Regions from separate parts of the Homo sapiens genome. Here region 2 is linked to region 1. The links come from fine-mapping of genetic effects on gene expression. A gene starts in region 1. The other region holds a variant in brackets. All regions are shown on one strand. Distances are between the middles of the regions.

Region 1 (8,337 bases):
ATTGAATATCCTTTTCCTCCTCTTGAGCTGGTTATGCCGCATGACAGACAGAGAGACTTGTCTGTCCGTTCAGGCCTCTCACAAATGTCATGTCTTTGTGAAGTGCCCCAGGTGTTCTCTAACCCCAGAGGGTCTCATTTCCCCTTCCCAGACCCCTCCTTTATTTCAGCTTGTGGTGCTTATTATTATTTTATTTATTTACTTTGAGCCAGAGCCTTGCTCTGTTGCCCCAGCTGGAGTGCAGTGGCGTGATCTTGGCCTATTGCAACCTCTACTTCCCGGGTTCAAGTGATTCTCCTGCCTTAGCCTCCCAACTAGCTGGGATCACAGGCGTGCACCACCATTCCCAGCTAATTTTTGTATTTTTAGTAGACCCAGGGTTTCGCCATGTTGGCCAGGCTGGTCTCGAACTTCTGACCTCAAGTGATCCACCCCCCACTCGGCCTCCCAAAGTGCTGGGATTACAGGCATTAGCCACCGCACCCAGTCTGTTATTATTATTTTAATACATTTACTTAATTTTAACCTTCCTACTGCACTGTGACTGCCACAAAATCACTGATTTTTTTTATCCTTAGCCTAGAGACTTGAACATAATAAGTGCTCAACAAATATTTGCTCATTTGCATGGCATTGCCGTAATACAGTGGCTCTAAATCAGGGAGCAATTTTGCCCCCCAGGGGACATTTGGCAATATCTGGAGACAGTTTTGGTTGTCCTGGGGGCACAGAGGTGGCATGCTTCTGGCTTCTAGTGGGTAGAGGCCAGGGATGCTGCTAAGCCCCCTCCAACGCATGCACAGGACAGCCCTAACAGCAAAGAATCATCCTGCCCAAAATGTCAATAGTGTCAAGCTTGAGACACCTTGCTGTAAGCTAATTAGTGCTCATTGTGAATAGGTTAGCAAAAAGGAACCCAAAGAGATCAACCTACCAGTCTGGCAGAAAATCTCACTAGGAAATGTCATGCCTTCTTTTTGTTGTTGTTGTTTGTTTGGTTTTTTTAGGAGCGGAGGCTGACTTTAGTGCAAAGCTCTTTCCTAATGTCATAGAGGTGCCCTGGGAGCCCAGATGGTATTTTCACCACACTTGTTCACCTTTAAGAGTGGCAACTGACCTCTCAGGAATCCCTGAAGTGCTAGGAATGTAACTCTGTTAAGGAAGAAAATCCAGGCCTTTTTAAGTCCAACAAAATGTCAAACGTGAATTGTGTTCCTGGGAGAAGGAACGGGAAGGGAGGTGTTTTGTAAAGTACCCTCTCCTGGCTTCCCCCATGGTGATGAAACTTCAGAGCTGGCTCTGGAATAAATGATTCAAGAGAACCCGAGGCCCTATCTCCTGTTCCTTTAAAACTTGCAAAGGAGCTTTGAGAAGGATTCTGTTCGCCACGTGCTTCTGTGGGCAACTCATTTGCAGGAAACTCACTTGCAGGAAATTCATTTGCCGGAAACTCAAGGCACTGGTATCACTTAATCATGAAAACAGCAGCCCCATCGGAGCAGAAGTTACTGGCTTTAGAGTCACATTTTAGGTTCCTACTCATCCCATCAAACCAGTTCTTGTGACTGACATGGAAATTAGGTAATATATGCCCTGAAAAGGAAAAGTAGGAGCAGTCTGAAGGAGTTTGACGAGGCAAGAAATAGGGTTGACATGCTATTTTAAAAAGTTTGTCCTTGGGGTAGAATTACCTGCCAGACTGACTGGGATCTGGTAGTGGTATGTGTACTTGAAAGAGCTACCTTTAGCACAGCTGGCAGCAATATAAATGCCAAGTAGAGGATTCCGAGAGGCACTACCCCCTCTTCTGGGCACTCTCCAATTCTTGTGCCATTAAAAAAAAGGAAGGTGTGAATGCATTATTGTCATTACTATACCATTTATCCAGTAAATGAACATTTTCTGGGTTCTGTATATTTGACAAAATGCCACTACGTGAAGTCATTTCTTCCGTCCAATTTTGATGAAAGCTCTTAAAGACAGAAACATATATATAGACAGTACTTGGCACACTGTGAACTGCAAAAGTGTTTAATGATGACAGTAATTAGGATAACGGAATAATATGTGTTGAGTTGATAGTTGGCAGCATTTTAAATATATTAAGAAAGCATAAAAAAGGACCATTTAAAAACGAGGTGGGAATCCCCAAAGTAACAATGGTCTTGTTAAAAGTGAACTAGAAAAAGACTGCTGTTTCTGAGAAATATATGTTTCAATCAAACTAAAAATTACTCTAAATTGAATTACTTGCCCCAAAGCTCATTTTCTGTTGTTTGTGAACCCCATTCACTCAATCATTCCTGTATTCAACAAACATGACTTTCTTTTATCATTTGTGTTCTTATTCCATTACTCCTTCCTTTTTTTTTTTTTGAGATGGAGTCCAGCTCTGTCTCCCAGGCTGGAATGCAGTGGCGCTGTCTCGGCTCACTGCAACCTCTGCCTCCCAGGTTCAAGCGATTCTCCTGTCTCAGCCTCCTGAGTAGCTGGCATTACAATCGTTTGTCACCAAGCCCAGCTAATTTTTTTTTGTATTTTCAGTAGAGACCATGTTGGCCAGGCTGGTGTTGAACTCCTGACCTCAAGTGATCTGCCCACCTCGGCCTTCCAAAGTGCTGGGATTACAGGTGTGAGCCACCACGCCCAGCCCATTATTCCTTCTTTTATTCCACAGACATTTACACACTCTCCTACTGTGTGCCAGGCATTGCTTTAGATTCTAATAATTGAGCAGCAAATGATCCTTGTCCTTGGGAAACTTAGAATCTAGTGAAATATTCATTCATTCTTTCATTCATTCACATATTTACTGGGTGCTCACGTGTTCTGGGGATACAGCAACAGAAAACACAGGACCCTCAGGTAAACGAATTACATTCCAAAGGGTAGAAGCGAAAGCAAGGGCAAAGGTCTTGAGACAGCTGTGAGCATGGCTAGAGGCCAGTTAGCAAAAGGGACATGACACCATCTGTGTCCCCTCCCACTCTGATAGGGACACATAACATTTTCTCAATTTTTCCTAAAAGACTACAAAAAGTCTCTTCTTTCCAAACAGTTTGCCGCCCTAAATCCTTCCAGTATATTACTTGGGGAGGTGTCACTAGATCTGTGTACCTCTGTTTCTCATTATGTGACTCCATTCTGGTTTCTTGCAGGTTTTTGTTTAAAGGAATGGTGGCGTTATTTATTTAAAACAGGCTTTAAAAGATACGGTTAAAACAGGGTAGAAAACCCTCACGTGGCCCACCTGCAATTCCTACTAACTTAACATAGGTCCCGCGTCTGAGGAATCCCCCTAGGTCCTAAATCTTTGGCAGCCAAGTCAAAAGTGACTACGACTCCGGGACTATAATTCCCAAGAGACACTGCGTCCGCACCCTCTGCGCATGTTCAACCTTGGTGACTGCATAAGGCAGCGAGCCCAAGGGGCTGGGCTTGGGCCTGAGCGGTGAATCGGGGCGGGGCTAGGGGCAGGGCCAGGGAGGGGGCGGTGCTGCCGGCACCGCCCGGAACACGCTAGTGGAGCGGAAGATGGCGGCGGCGGCGGCGGCCGCTGCAGCCGGGACTTCAGTTGGGCTGAGGCGGAGGAGCCGCCGCTTCTGACCTCGCTCTGGCTCCGGTGCGCGCGGCTGAGCGCGTGCGAGGCCCCGCGCGTCGGGCAGGGGCGGCGGCGGCCACTGCGCGCCGCCCTGAGGAGCGCCCCAGCGGCGGCGCGACTGCGGCTGAGGAGAGAGCCGGCTCCGGGCCTCCGCGTCCTCCTGCTCCCCCGGCCCCCCGCCTCCTCGGGGGGGCGGCGGCGGCGATGTTCTCGGTCCTCTCGTACGGGCGGCTGGTGGCCCGCGCCGTGCTCGGCGGCCTCTCGCAGACCGACCCCAGGGCCGGCGGCGGCGGCGGCGGCGACTACGGACTGGTGACGGCCGGCTGCGGCTTCGGGAAGGACTTCCGTAAGGGCCTCCTCAAGAAGGGCGCGTGCTACGGGGACGACGCGTGCTTCGTGGCCCGGCACCGTTCCGCGGACGTGCTCGGTGAGTCCCCGACCCGGTTCCCTTGCCCCAGCCTCGGATCCGCCTCCCGGGGACTCCCCGCGCGGGGCTTCCCCAGTTCCTCCCGGCGGCGAAAGGAGCCAGAGCGCTCACATGGAGGGAGCGCTTACTATGCGCCAGGCGCCGTGCCAAGCGCTCCGAGGCGCGTTTTCCGCTTGAACGACCCCCATTTTAGAGAGGAGGAAACTAAGGCGCACAGCGGTCAAGTCGTGTGCTCAAGGTCACAACCCGAGAGTGTGACCGGTCTGTCCGAGTCCAGAGCCACACTCTCGGTCTCACTCGGCCGTGCCAGCCCTGGGCGACCTCGTCCCCTCCCTGGGCGACACCTGCAGGCTCCTAACCTCGTTCTGGTTCCCTCTCCGCATGCCCCGGGGATCCCTGCCTCTTCGCGTGCTCCCGACACCACAGCCCGGCCCAGGCTGCGGGATCGCCGGCCGACAGGCAGTCGTGAGCCCCCAGACAGCCCGGCCGTATTCTTTCGCCGCCTGGATGGTAACCAAATCTTCACCCTTTTCGGAGTGTGGCGGTGGGGGCTGCTGGCTTGGCGAAAAAACCCTCACAGCGTTTTCTCCCAAATTGATCTTGTCCACTTGCGGTCACTTGGGGGTTGGCAGAGTCTCCTTGATCCAAAATAGAATGGTCGAGCCTACTTGTAGATTGCAGCCGGTAAAGCTCTGAGGATTGGTCACAGCCTTTTCAGGCCACAGGTGCTCCCTGAGGCCTATTCCAGTTATACCTTTTGGGGGTGGGAGACTACGGAGAGAGCTGGCAGAAAGGGCTAAATATAGTTCACAAGCAGTCAGAAACTTTACCATAATGTACGCCTTAGGAGATTTTGTGTATGCTATGGGATATTGTGCCGTTAAAACTCTTTGAATGAATAAAGCAATGCGCTCGCTTTGAAATTGAAGGACGTGTTGTCATTGAACTTGGGTTCAAATGTCACTTTGATTTCCCTTCCCAGGTGAGACTAAGTTTTTGGTTACTTTAAATTTCATATGCTGAGGCAGAGTTTGGCATTGGAACAAATGATTCTGTAACTTTTTTATGACAGTAATTATTTTTTAATCTGATCTCAGAATAATTGCCTAGTATCTTTGGTTCTACTACATGTAGTGTTTGTGAACATGGGACTGGAAAGGTTGTTCTCAGTTTAATTTATGAATGACCCCATTACCTGGGTTGAAGAAAAAGCATTTAATGTTTAGGCAACGCTATTGATATTAACATGAGAGGGAGACTTAGAAAGGTCCTGCAGCTTGCAGATTGAAATTGTACAAATCCACCCCGAAGTCAGCTGTCAGTGGCTGTCTTCCCTGATACATTTAGAAGTGCCTCACTCAATGAGCTTGTGACCTGTGCTGCGTTTTTTTTTTTCAGACGGAGTCTACCTCTGTCACTCAGGCTGGAGTGCAGTGGCGCAATCTTGGCTCACTGCAGCCTCCGCCTCCCCGGTTCAAGCGATTCTCCTGCTTCAGCCTCCCGAGTAGCTGGGATTATAGGCGCCCATCACCATGTCCAGCTAATTTTTGTATTTTTAGTAGAGATGGGGTTTCACTGTGTTGGCCAGGCCGGTCTCGAACTCCTGACCTCGTGATCGGCCTCGTGTTCGCCTCGGCCGCCCAAGGTGCTGGGATTACAAGTGTGAGCCTGGCCCCTGTGTTGCTTCTTAAAGTTGTGTTCATAACATAGGATAGGGGATAATGAGCCTCTAAGGTTCACCTCATAAATCTGTATGCTGGGCTGCGCGTGGTGGCTCACTCCTATAATCCCAGCACTTTGGGAGGCTGAGGCGGGTGGATCATGAGGTCAAGAGTTCAAGACCAGACTGACCAATATGGTGAAACCCAGTCTTTACTAAAAATACAAAAATTAGCCGGGCGTGATGGCGCATGCCTATAGTCCCAGCTACTCAACAGGCTGAGGCAGGAGAATCTCTTGAACCAGGGAGGTGGAGGCTTCAGTGAGCCAAGATCGTGCCACTGCACTCCAGACTGGGCGACAGTGCGAGACTCCGTCTCAAAAAAAAAATAAAATAAAAAATCTGTATGCGACTTTTGTGAAAGATCCGTGACTTGATTGATGATTTGGGGAGTATTTAAATGTATCAAATTCTATATGGAAGCTTGATTTTAAAATTTTGGAAGGCTAGACCGGGCGTGGTGGCTCACGCCTGTAATCCCAGCACTTTGGGAGGCGGAGGTGGGCGGATCACCTGAGGTTAGGAGTTCGAGACCAGCCTGGCCAACATGGCAAAACCCCGTCTCTACTAAAAAATACAAAAATTAGGCAGGTGTGGTGGCACACGCCTGTAGTCCCAGCTACTAGCGAGGCTGAGGCAGGAGAATTGCTTGAACCTGGGAGATGGAGGTTGCGGTGAGCCGAGATCACACCACTGCACTCCAGCCTGGGTAACAGAGCAAGACTCCGTCTCAAAAAAAATACAATAAAATTTTGGAAGGCTACCTTCTTAATGGAGTGGGATATTTACAAGAATTGGGGGGATTTTGGTCAAACCCATTCTAAAAAAGTATAAACATAATTTCATGCCCTGACATCCTGGTGGAAATCCAGTGAACTTTGATGCTCAGCTTTGCCACTTAGTAGCTCTGTGATTTGTGGTCTTGGGCAGAGTCTCTCTTGAGTCTCCTTTGGTTTATCTGGACTAGGGGATAAAGGGAATGGACGATCTGACCCTTAGTGACTACAGCTTCTGACCATCATATCACATTTTCTTTTGTTCTTTTCTTTTTTTTTTTTGGTGGGTGGGGGGTGCGGGTATGGAGTTTCGCTCTTGTTGCCCAGGCTGGAGTGCAATGGCGCCATCTCGGCTCACTGCAACCTCCGCCTCCCGGGTTTAAGTGATTCCCCTGCCTCAGCCACCTGAGTAGCTGGGATTACAGGCGCGCGCCATCACGCCCGGCTAATTTTTGTATTTTTAGTACAAACGGGGTTTCATCATGTTGGCCAGGCTGTACTCGAACTCCTAACCCCAGGTGATCCACCAGCCTCGGCCTCCCAAACTGCTGGGATTACAGGCATGAACCACCGCGCCCAGCCCATATTTTACTTTTGCTTTGAATAGATGGCACCCTTTGTTCTGCACCTCAAATGACAGGTGTCACGGGCACCTTCAGTAGATTCCTGTTTTGTATGTAGCACTAAACCAGTGGTTTTTAGCTTTCCTTGATTCACAACCCCTGAGGATCAGGACCCTGTGCACAGAGATAAAATTTTGCATGGGCTCTTAGGAACTTTGCTGACTCCATGACTCCTCTGATACCACCTGGAGGTCCATGCATAGGAATCAGATCAAGAACCCCAGCTCTGTACCCTTGAAGGGAATGCCAGCAGACACAGTCAGATACTGGTAGCTGATGTGACCAAAAGGTGGTTGTTAGCCATGTTTGACAAAGATCAAGCATGCACATATGCAAATGGTGGGGGATAGGGGCAGTGAAGGACAGGTTCTCCAGGACTGTCCTGTTGTGGAGGAGCTCTTCCGGACGGCAGTCTTGGAAGCCACCTGAAATAACTTCATGAGTTGGCCTCATTTGATCCTTGGCTGTCCTGAACCAGTTCATATGATGGTGACTTCTATTTAGTTGATACCGTAAAAGGTGATGACTTTTTTTTTTTTTTGAGATAGAGTCTTGCTCTGCCACCCAGGCTGGAGTGCAGTGGCACGATTTTGGCTCGCTGCAACCTCTGCCTCCCAGCTTCAAGCGATTCTTGTGCCTCAGCCTTCCGAGTAGCTGGGACTACAGGCATGTGCCACCTCACCCGGCTAATTGTTTGTATTTTTTTAGTAGAGATGAGGTTTCGCCACGTTGCCTAGGCTGGTGTCGAACTCCTGACCTCATGTCATCCACCTGCCTCAGCCTCCCAAAGTGCTAGGATTACAGGTGTGAGCCACAGTGTCTGGCTAAGGTGATGACTTTGAATGACTCTTTAATACTGCTGTCAACTCTAGAGGTTGGAGTTACAACCTGAATTACATTAAAAGGCTATGTTGAGTAATAACGTTACGTTGAACTTAAGTGCTTTTGAACCTTTTGGTTCTGTAGATAATTAATTTTCTTTGAATTGACACCATATTTATTACTGAGTATCCGTGTAACAGATTATTCACTGTGGTCATCTAGGACTCCTTGACTGGAATGAAAGCTGTTTCTTTCTTTTTATATGAGAAAGAGAAATCTCTTTTGTTTCTTTAATTTAAAATTGATCTGTCCTATTAGTCATGCAGTGACTAATAGTGCTTGGTGCTTCACAACATTTTGTATAGTCC
Region 2 (8,337 bases), 280 kb after region 1:
GTCTGAAGTAAAAGTTTCCTTCCTTTAAATTGAAAGTTTTCTTCCTTTAAATTGCTGTCAAGTTTAAGAATTATTCTTTTTATTCCCGAGTAAATCTTGAAATTGCTGGCACCCTGTTGGCTATTAAGTCTTCATTTTAGGAAATAAAATTATCAATTTCTGTACAAGTGCTAAAGCAAATGCAATTTTAAGATTGTGTTGCTTCCACTACTTAAATCTTAAAAGATGATTCGCTCCAGAGTATATACTACAAGACAGAAGTCATCTGAGAATATTTATTTCCTGGTGCTATTCATCAACCCTGGGTTACCAAGATACATAAAGTTTGTTTTAAACAACCCTGAAAACAGTGTTCTTAAGAAGTCAATAAATAACCCCTGCGGCATATACTAGAAGCCCCAAAATTCTAAAACTAAGACTTCTAGCTGGGAATGGTGGCTCATGCCTGTAATCCCAGCACTTTGGGAGGCCAAGGGAAGAGGATCCCTTGAGCCCAGGAGTTTGAGACTAGGCTGGGTAATACAGGGAGACCTTGTCTCAAAAAAACATCCCACAAAACCATGGCCGGGCACGGTGGTTCATGCCTGTAATCCCAGCACTTTGGGAGGCCAAGGGAGGCAGATCACTTGAGGTCAGGAGTTCGAGACCAGCCTGGCCAACATGGTAAAATCCCGTCTCTACTTTAAAAAAAAAAAAGGAAAAAGAAAAAAAGAAAACAGAAATGACTTAGGCTATTATAGCTTGATTCACTTTCATGTCAGCAGATAATACAGAAAGCTTAAAAACAATGACGTTCATTTCTTATAAGATTATGTACAACTTCACTACTTTTGGTTTCCATCCATCCGGAGAAATATTTTCTTGGCCTTAAGATAATGTAGAATTACTGTGGCTTCTTAAGAGGTGAACATGTGGGTCACTTTCTCTTTTTTTTTTTTTTGAGTCAGGGTCTCACTCTGTTGCCCACGCTGGAGTGCAGTGGCTTAATTTCAGCTCACTGCCACAGCCTCGACCTCCTGGGCTCAGGTGATCCTCCCACCTCAGCTTTTCAAGTCGTTGGGACTACAGGTACGCACCACCACGCCTAGCTAATTTTTGTATTTTTTGTAGGGATGGGGTTTTACTATGTTGCCCAGGCTGGTCTCAAACTCCTGGACTCAAGTGATCTGCATGCCTTGGCCTCCCCCAAAAGTGCTGAGATTACAGGCATGAGCCACTGAGCACAGCCTATGTGCGGGTTATTTTCTCCATGTTTTTATTTGCCATATCAATTTCATTTGGCTCTTGTGTTCTAGATACTTAAGACTCACATTAGCATTTGCTATGTATGCTTACCCAGTTTCTCTTTGGAATGATTAGCTGGTATAGCAACATATAAAATTTAGTTTCCTGGCTGGGCATGGTGGCTCACACCTGTAATTCCAGCACTTTGGGAGGCTGAGGCGGGCGGATCACTTGAGGCCAGGAGTTCGAGACCAGCCTGGCCAACATGGTGAAACCCTGTCTCTACTAAAAATACAAAAATTAGCCGGGTGTGGTGGCGGGCACTTGTAATCCCTGCTACTAGGGAGGCTGAGGCAGGAGAATCGCTTGAACCCAGGAGGCGGAGGTTGCAGTGAGCTGAGATCACGCCCTTGCACTCCTGCCTGGGCGACAGAGTGAGATTCCATCTCAAAAAAAAAAAAAAAAAAAAAAAAAAAAAAAAAAATTAGTTTCCTTAAACTCTCTCTCCATATCTCCCTCAAAAAACCACCTATTCCAGCTTAGTCTTTGAAAAGTTCAGCCAGAACCATCCTACCAGATATCTTCCAAAAGCTGACAAAGAATTTTAAAGTCAGGAGATGACCCTTACATTCCAAACAGTGACTACAAAAAGGTCTGTTCCTTTCTGCAAATATCAAAATCGTTAAGTCAGTACTTTTTTATTTTCAGCTTCGAATTAGTTTACAACACTCTCCAGTTTTCCAACACATCTGAAAAACCCCTTCACATCCAATTTCATAATGTAAATGAAAATATAAAAGTCACCATGTCTAAAAGCACAATTTATGCCATTTAATCTTTCAGGCTACGCAAATAGTACCTTCGACTGACAAGAAAAAATTCAGAATTAAAGTTCACTCTATAGTTTTCACAAAACTGAATTATCAGGCTAAATGCTAGATTGCACAGTCAATTTGATTACTAATTCTAAAAGAGGTGGAAGTTTAAAAGGCTCAACGTGTATAGTCTTAATAAAATAAATACCTATTTATCTGGCCCAGGTTATACAGTCACGGTATGCTTTTCCAAAATGTTCCATATAATAGTTGCAAATGCCTTAGAATTATATCTTACCCAATTCAATGACCTGCTGGTCCTAGTAACCCAGCAAACTATCATTTCTGATTTGCATATAAGTTTACAAACACCATGAAAGGTCACCAGAGTATACTGACAACCTAAATATTACAGCTGTAACTAGGCTTCCTCAACATGATAAAGGGCACCCGCCTATGAGACCCACACCTATGTCACACTTCACTGTGAAGGACTGGATGCTTTCCCCTACGATCAGTAAGACAAGGATGTCTGCTCTTGGTACTTCAACGTTGTATTGGAGATTCTAACCAGGGCAATTAGGCAAGAAATAAAGGGCATCCAGACTAGAAAGAAGTAAAAACATTTTCATTTGCAAATGCATGATCTTGTATATAGAAAATCTTAAGGAACCCATAAAAACTATTAAAACTAACTAATGAGTTCAGCAAGATGGCAAACTACAAGATCAATACGTAAAAAACTATTTCTACACGCTAGCAAAGAACAATCTGAAAATGAAATTGAAAAAAGAATTCCTAACTCAAGGCAAATTAAAGACTTAAATGTAAGGCCTCAAACTGTAAATATCCTAGAAGAAAACCTAGGAAATACTCTTCTCAACACTGCCCTAAGCAAAGAATTTATGACTAAGCCTCAAAAGCAAATGCAACAAATAACTTGACAATTGGGACCTAGTTAAACGAAAGAGTTTCTGCACAGCAGAAGAAATCTATCAACAGAGTAAACTGACAACCTACAGAATTGGAGAAAATAATTGCAAACTATGCACTCAACAAAGGACTAATATCCAGAATCTATAAGGAACTTAAATCCACACACAAACACACACACAAAATCACTGTTGAAAAGTGGGCAAAGGGTATGAAAAGACACTTCTCAAAAGACAACAATCAAGTAGTCAACATAGGAAAAAATGCTCAACATCACTAGTAGAGAGATGCAAATCAAAACCACAATGAGATGTCATCTCACACCAGTCAGAGTGACTATTATTGCTGGGCACGGTGGCTCACGCTTGTAATCCCAGCACTTTGGGAAGCTGAGGTGGGAGGATCACTGGAGCCCAGGAATTCAACTACTAGCCAGGGCAACATAGTAAGACCTCATCTCTACGAAAAAATTTAAAAATGAGCCTGTCATAGTGGTGTGTGCCTACAGTCCCAGCTAACCTGGAAGGCTCAGGTGGGAGGGTCACTAGAGCCTGGAAAGCCATGGCTCAATGAGCTATAATCATGCCACTGTGTTCCAGCCTGGGCAACAGACTGAGATCCTGCCTCAAAAAAAAAGAAAAAAAAAAAAAAAAAGGTGGTGGGGCTGGGGGGAACACTTATACACTGCTGGCAAGAATGTAAACTAGTTCAGCCCCCGTGGAAAGCTGTTTGGAGATTTCTCAAGAAACTAAAAACAGAATGACCATTCAACCCAGCGATCCCATTACTGGGTATATATCCCAAGAAAAAGAAATTGTGGCCGGGCGTGGTGGCTCACACCTGTAATCTCAGCACTTTCGGAGGCCAAGGTGGGTGAATCACTTGAGCCCAGGAATTCGAGACCAGCCTGGGCAACATGGTGAGACCTTATCTGTACGAAAAATACAAAAATTAGTTGGGCGTGGTGGGCATCTGTAGTTCCAGCTACAAGGAGGCTGAGGTGGGAGGATGGCCTGAACTCACAAGGAGGCTGAAGTGGGAGGATGGCTTGAGCTTGGGAGGTGGAGGTTGCACTGAGCCAAAATCGCACCACTGCACTCCAGCCTGGGCGACAGAGTGAGACCCTATCTCAAAAATAAATGTGGTATATATACACCATGTGATACTACGCAGCCATGCAAAAGAATGAAATCATGTCTTTTCCAGCAAAATGGATGCAGCCAGAGACTATTATCCTAAGTGAGTTAACCCAGAAAACCAAATACTGTCTGTTCTCACTTGTAAGTAGGAGCTAAACACTGAGTACACATAGCCATTAAGATGGGAACAATAAACACTGGGCACTCCAAAAAGTGGGAGGGAAAGAGGGGCGAGGGCTGAAAAACTATCTGTGAAGTACTATACTCATCATCTATACTCATCATCTGGATGACAGGATCAGCAGAAGCCCAAACCTCAGCATCACACATTAAATCCACATAACAAACCTGCACATGTACCTTGAATCTAAAAATTTTAATTAAAAATAAATATCACTAGGCCGGGCGCGGTGGCTCACGCCTGTAATCCCAGTACTTTGGGAGGCCAAGGCGGGTGGATCACGAGGTCAGGAGATCGAGACCATCCTGGCTAACATGGTGAAACCCTGTCTCTACTAAAAATACAAAAACATTAGCTGGGCATGGTGGCAGGCGCCT[C/G]TGGTCCCAGCTACTGGGGAGGCTGAGGCAGGAGAATGGCGTGAACCCGAGAGGCGGAGCTTGCAGTGAGCAGAGATCGTGCCACTGCACTCCAGCCTGTCATAGCGGTGAAAGAGCGAGACTCCGTCTCAAAAATAAATAAATAAATAAATATCACCAATAGGCCAATTTCAAGTTACAAAAAATTATTCCAATTACAAATATTCCCCCCGCCAAAAATGCAATAACAAAAGAAGCACAAGACTTGAACACTGACAACCAGTGTTGAAAGAAATGACAGACCTTAAAAAAAAAAAACAAAAAAAAAACAGACATCCCTATGCTCATGGATCCAAAGACTTGATATTACGACCATATTTCCCAAACTCATCTATAGATACAACACAATTCTTACTGAAAATACCAGCTTGCTTTCTGCAGAAATTGACAAGCAACTCTTAAAAATTTATATGTAAATGTAAGGAACCCAGAATGCCCAAAATTATCTTGAACAAAGTTACACTCCCAAGTTCCCAATTTCAAAAAATACAAAACGACAGCTAGCTATCAAGACAGTATGGTACTGACCTAAAGACAGAGATCAATGGAGTAAGAATAGAGTCTAGAAATACATTCTTGCATTTGTAAATTAATTTTTCACAAAGGTTGCAGGACAAATTAGTGAAGAAATCTTTTCAACAAATGGTGCTGAGACAACTAAATATCCACATGCAAAAGAAAGCAGCTGGATCTCCTACCTCACACCATAGTTTTTGCTGTTGTTGCTGTTTTTAAAGAGGCAAGGTCTTGCTTTGTTGCCTAGGGTGGAGGACAGTGGCAGGATCATAGTAGCTCACTGCAGCCTCCACTCTTGGGCTCAAGTCATCTTCGTACCTCTGCCTCCTGAGTAGTGAGACTACAGGCCTGTACCACCTTGCCTGGCTAATTTAAAAGTGTTTTTTTCCTAGGCTGGGCATGGTGGCTCTTGCCTATAATCGCAGCACTTTGAGAGGCTGAGGCAGGCGGATCATTTGAAGTCAGGAGTTCAAGACCAGCCTGGCCAAAACGGTGAAACCCCGTTTCTACTAAAAATACAAAAATTAGCTGAGTGTGGTGGTGTGCACCTGTAATCCCAGCTACTCGGGAGACTGAGGCGGGAGAATCGCTTGAACCCAGGAGGCGGAGGTTGCACTGAGCCGAGATCATGCCACTCGCTGCACTCCAGCCTGGACAACAGAGCAAGACTCCGTCTCAAAAAGAAAAAAAAAAGTGGTTTTTCCTGCCTCAGCCTCCCAAAGTGCTGGGATCATATAGGTATGAGCCACGACGCCTGGATCATATATACTGGCTAATATATAAAGTCTTTGTGACCTTCAATTGGCAACAGTTTCTTAGACATCACACCAAAAGCACAAGCAACAACAATGTATAAGTGGACTTTATCATATTAAAAACTTGTATGTTACAAAGTATGCCATCAAGAAAGTGAAAAAAAGGAATCCCTATAGAATGGGGAAAAAATTTTGCTAATCACACCTCATAAGGCAGGATATGTAAAGAATTCTTATACCTCAACATTAAAAAGACAAATAACCTAATTTAAACAGGCATTTCTCCAAAGAAAACACACCGATGGACAATAGCCACATGAAAAGATGCCCAACATCATTAAGAAATTAGGGAAACGGACGTCAAAACCACAATGATACTCACTTCCTGGGTAAAACTTTAAAACGATAGACAATGACATGTCTTGACAAGGATGTAGAGAAACTGGAACTTGTATACATTGTTGGTGGGAATGTAGAACAATATCACCACCATTCTGAAAGACAGTTTGGTAGCTGCTCAAAATGTTAAGTATAGAGTCACTATAGGCCCCATAATTCCATGCTTAGGTACATACCTAACAGAGAGAAAATGTTATGTTCACACAAAAATTAGTACAAGCATGTATGTACAAGTTATAGCACTATTCATTACTCATAATAGACCAAAACTGGAAACAACCCAAATGTCCATCAACTAATAAACATTATTCAGCAGTAAGGAATGAAATACATGCTATATTCATGAACGAAATGTAACACTATGCTAAGAGAAAGCCAGTCACCAAGATTGACTCCATTTATATGCAATATCCAGAAAAACAGACAGTAATCCACAAAACAGATAATAAACTGTGGTTGTCAGGAACTGGTGGGAGGAAAACAGGGCAACAACTGCTAATGGGTATGGGTTTTTCTGAGGGTGATGAAAATGTTCTGGAATTAAGATAATAATGAGGATCACACAGACCTTGAATATACTAATAATCTGGCATTCAATAATTGTATTGAAGGCCAGGTGCAGTGGCTCACGCCTGTAATCCCAGCACTTTGGGAGGCTGAGGCAGGTGGATCGCTTGAGGCCAGAAATTCAAGACTTGCCGGGCCAACATGGCCAAACTCTGCCTCTACTAAAAATACAAAAATATTAGCCAGGCGTGGCTGGGCGCGGTGGCTCATGCCTGTAATCAATCCCAGCACTTTGGGAGGCCGAGGAGGATGGATCACGAGGTCAGGGGCTTGAGACCATCCTGGCCAACACGGTGAAACCCCGTCTCTACTAAAAAATACAAAAATTAGCTGGGCGTGGTGGTACGTGCCTATAATCTCAGCTACTCGGGAGGCTGAGGCAGGAGAATCGCTTGAACCAGGGAGTCGGAGGTTGCAGTGAGCCAAGATCATGCCACTGCACTCCAGCCTGGCAACAGAGCGAGACTCGTCTCAAAACAAACAAACAAACAAACAAACAAAAAAGCAAGCAAGCCAGGCATAATGGCCCAAGCCTGTAATCCCAGCTACTCGGGAGACTGAAGCAGGAGAATCACTTGAAACTGGGAGGTACACAGGTTGCAGTGAGCCGAGATCACACCACTGCACTAGAGCCTGGGTGACAGAACAAGACTCTGTCTGTATAATATTATAATAATAATTGTATTGAACACACACATACACTTCAACTGTTTGTTCTGCACAGCAACTATGTTTACATTAGCTGAGCCTATCATATACTTCTGATTTCAAATTTCATTCATAGAGAACTTACGATAACGTTACAACAGTCAATATGACAGTTCTGTCCTTAAGGTGCTCACTGCCTAGTAGTATGACAACAGTATTTAATAAAATGCCCACATACATTCTAAACCTAGATGTCTGTTCTGCATTACTCAGTTAAAAAGGTCACAATTTAAGACGAAAGCAAGCAGCACTTAAGAGCCCAATGTCTCACACAGCTGGGCTTAACTAAAATAATAATAGGCCAGGCACGGTGGCTCACGCCTGTAATCCCAGCACTTTGGGAGGCCGAGGTGAGTGGGTCACGAGGCCAGGAGTTTGAGACCAGCCTGGCCAATATGGCAAAACCCCATCTCTACTACAACTACAAAAATCAGCTGGGTGTGGTGGTGCATGCTGGTGAGCCCAGCTAATTGGGAGGCTGAGGCACAAGAATCACTTGAACAGGCAGGCAGAGGTTGCAGTGAACCGAGATCACGCTACTGCATTCCAGCCTGCACAGCAGAGTGAGACCCTGTCTCAAAATAGTAATAATAATAATAATAATAATAATAGTAATAAAAATAAAAATTAAAGAAAAACAGAGCCCAACGTCAAAGCAATATATACGCTTTTTAGCAATTACCA

The links. PIP is the estimated chance that this variant, and not a neighbour inherited with it, causes the effect.
Region 2: its variant is the best candidate, but not a certain one, in a credible set for the expression of PPTC7 in blood mononuclear cells (TOPMed, PIP 0.66).

Annotation. Positions count from the first base shown.
Region 1 is chr12:110,578,500-110,586,836 of GRCh38, reverse strand. It overlaps PPTC7 (protein phosphatase targeting COQ7), which reads left to right and starts at 3,519. Exons shown (of 6, transcript NM_139283.2): 1 at 3,519-4,028. The coding sequence starts at 3,806. RefSeq lists silencers at 3,367-3,696, 3,737-3,886 and an enhancer at 6,934-7,183.
Region 2 is chr12:110,302,512-110,310,848 of GRCh38, reverse strand. The region is part of intron 5 of ATP2A2 (ATPase sarcoplasmic/endoplasmic reticulum Ca2+ transporting 2); the gene reads right to left. Among named protein-coding and RNA genes, the nearest start is that of ATP2A2, 25 kb to the right of the region's middle. The variant C/G (reference allele first, on the strand shown) is at 4,670.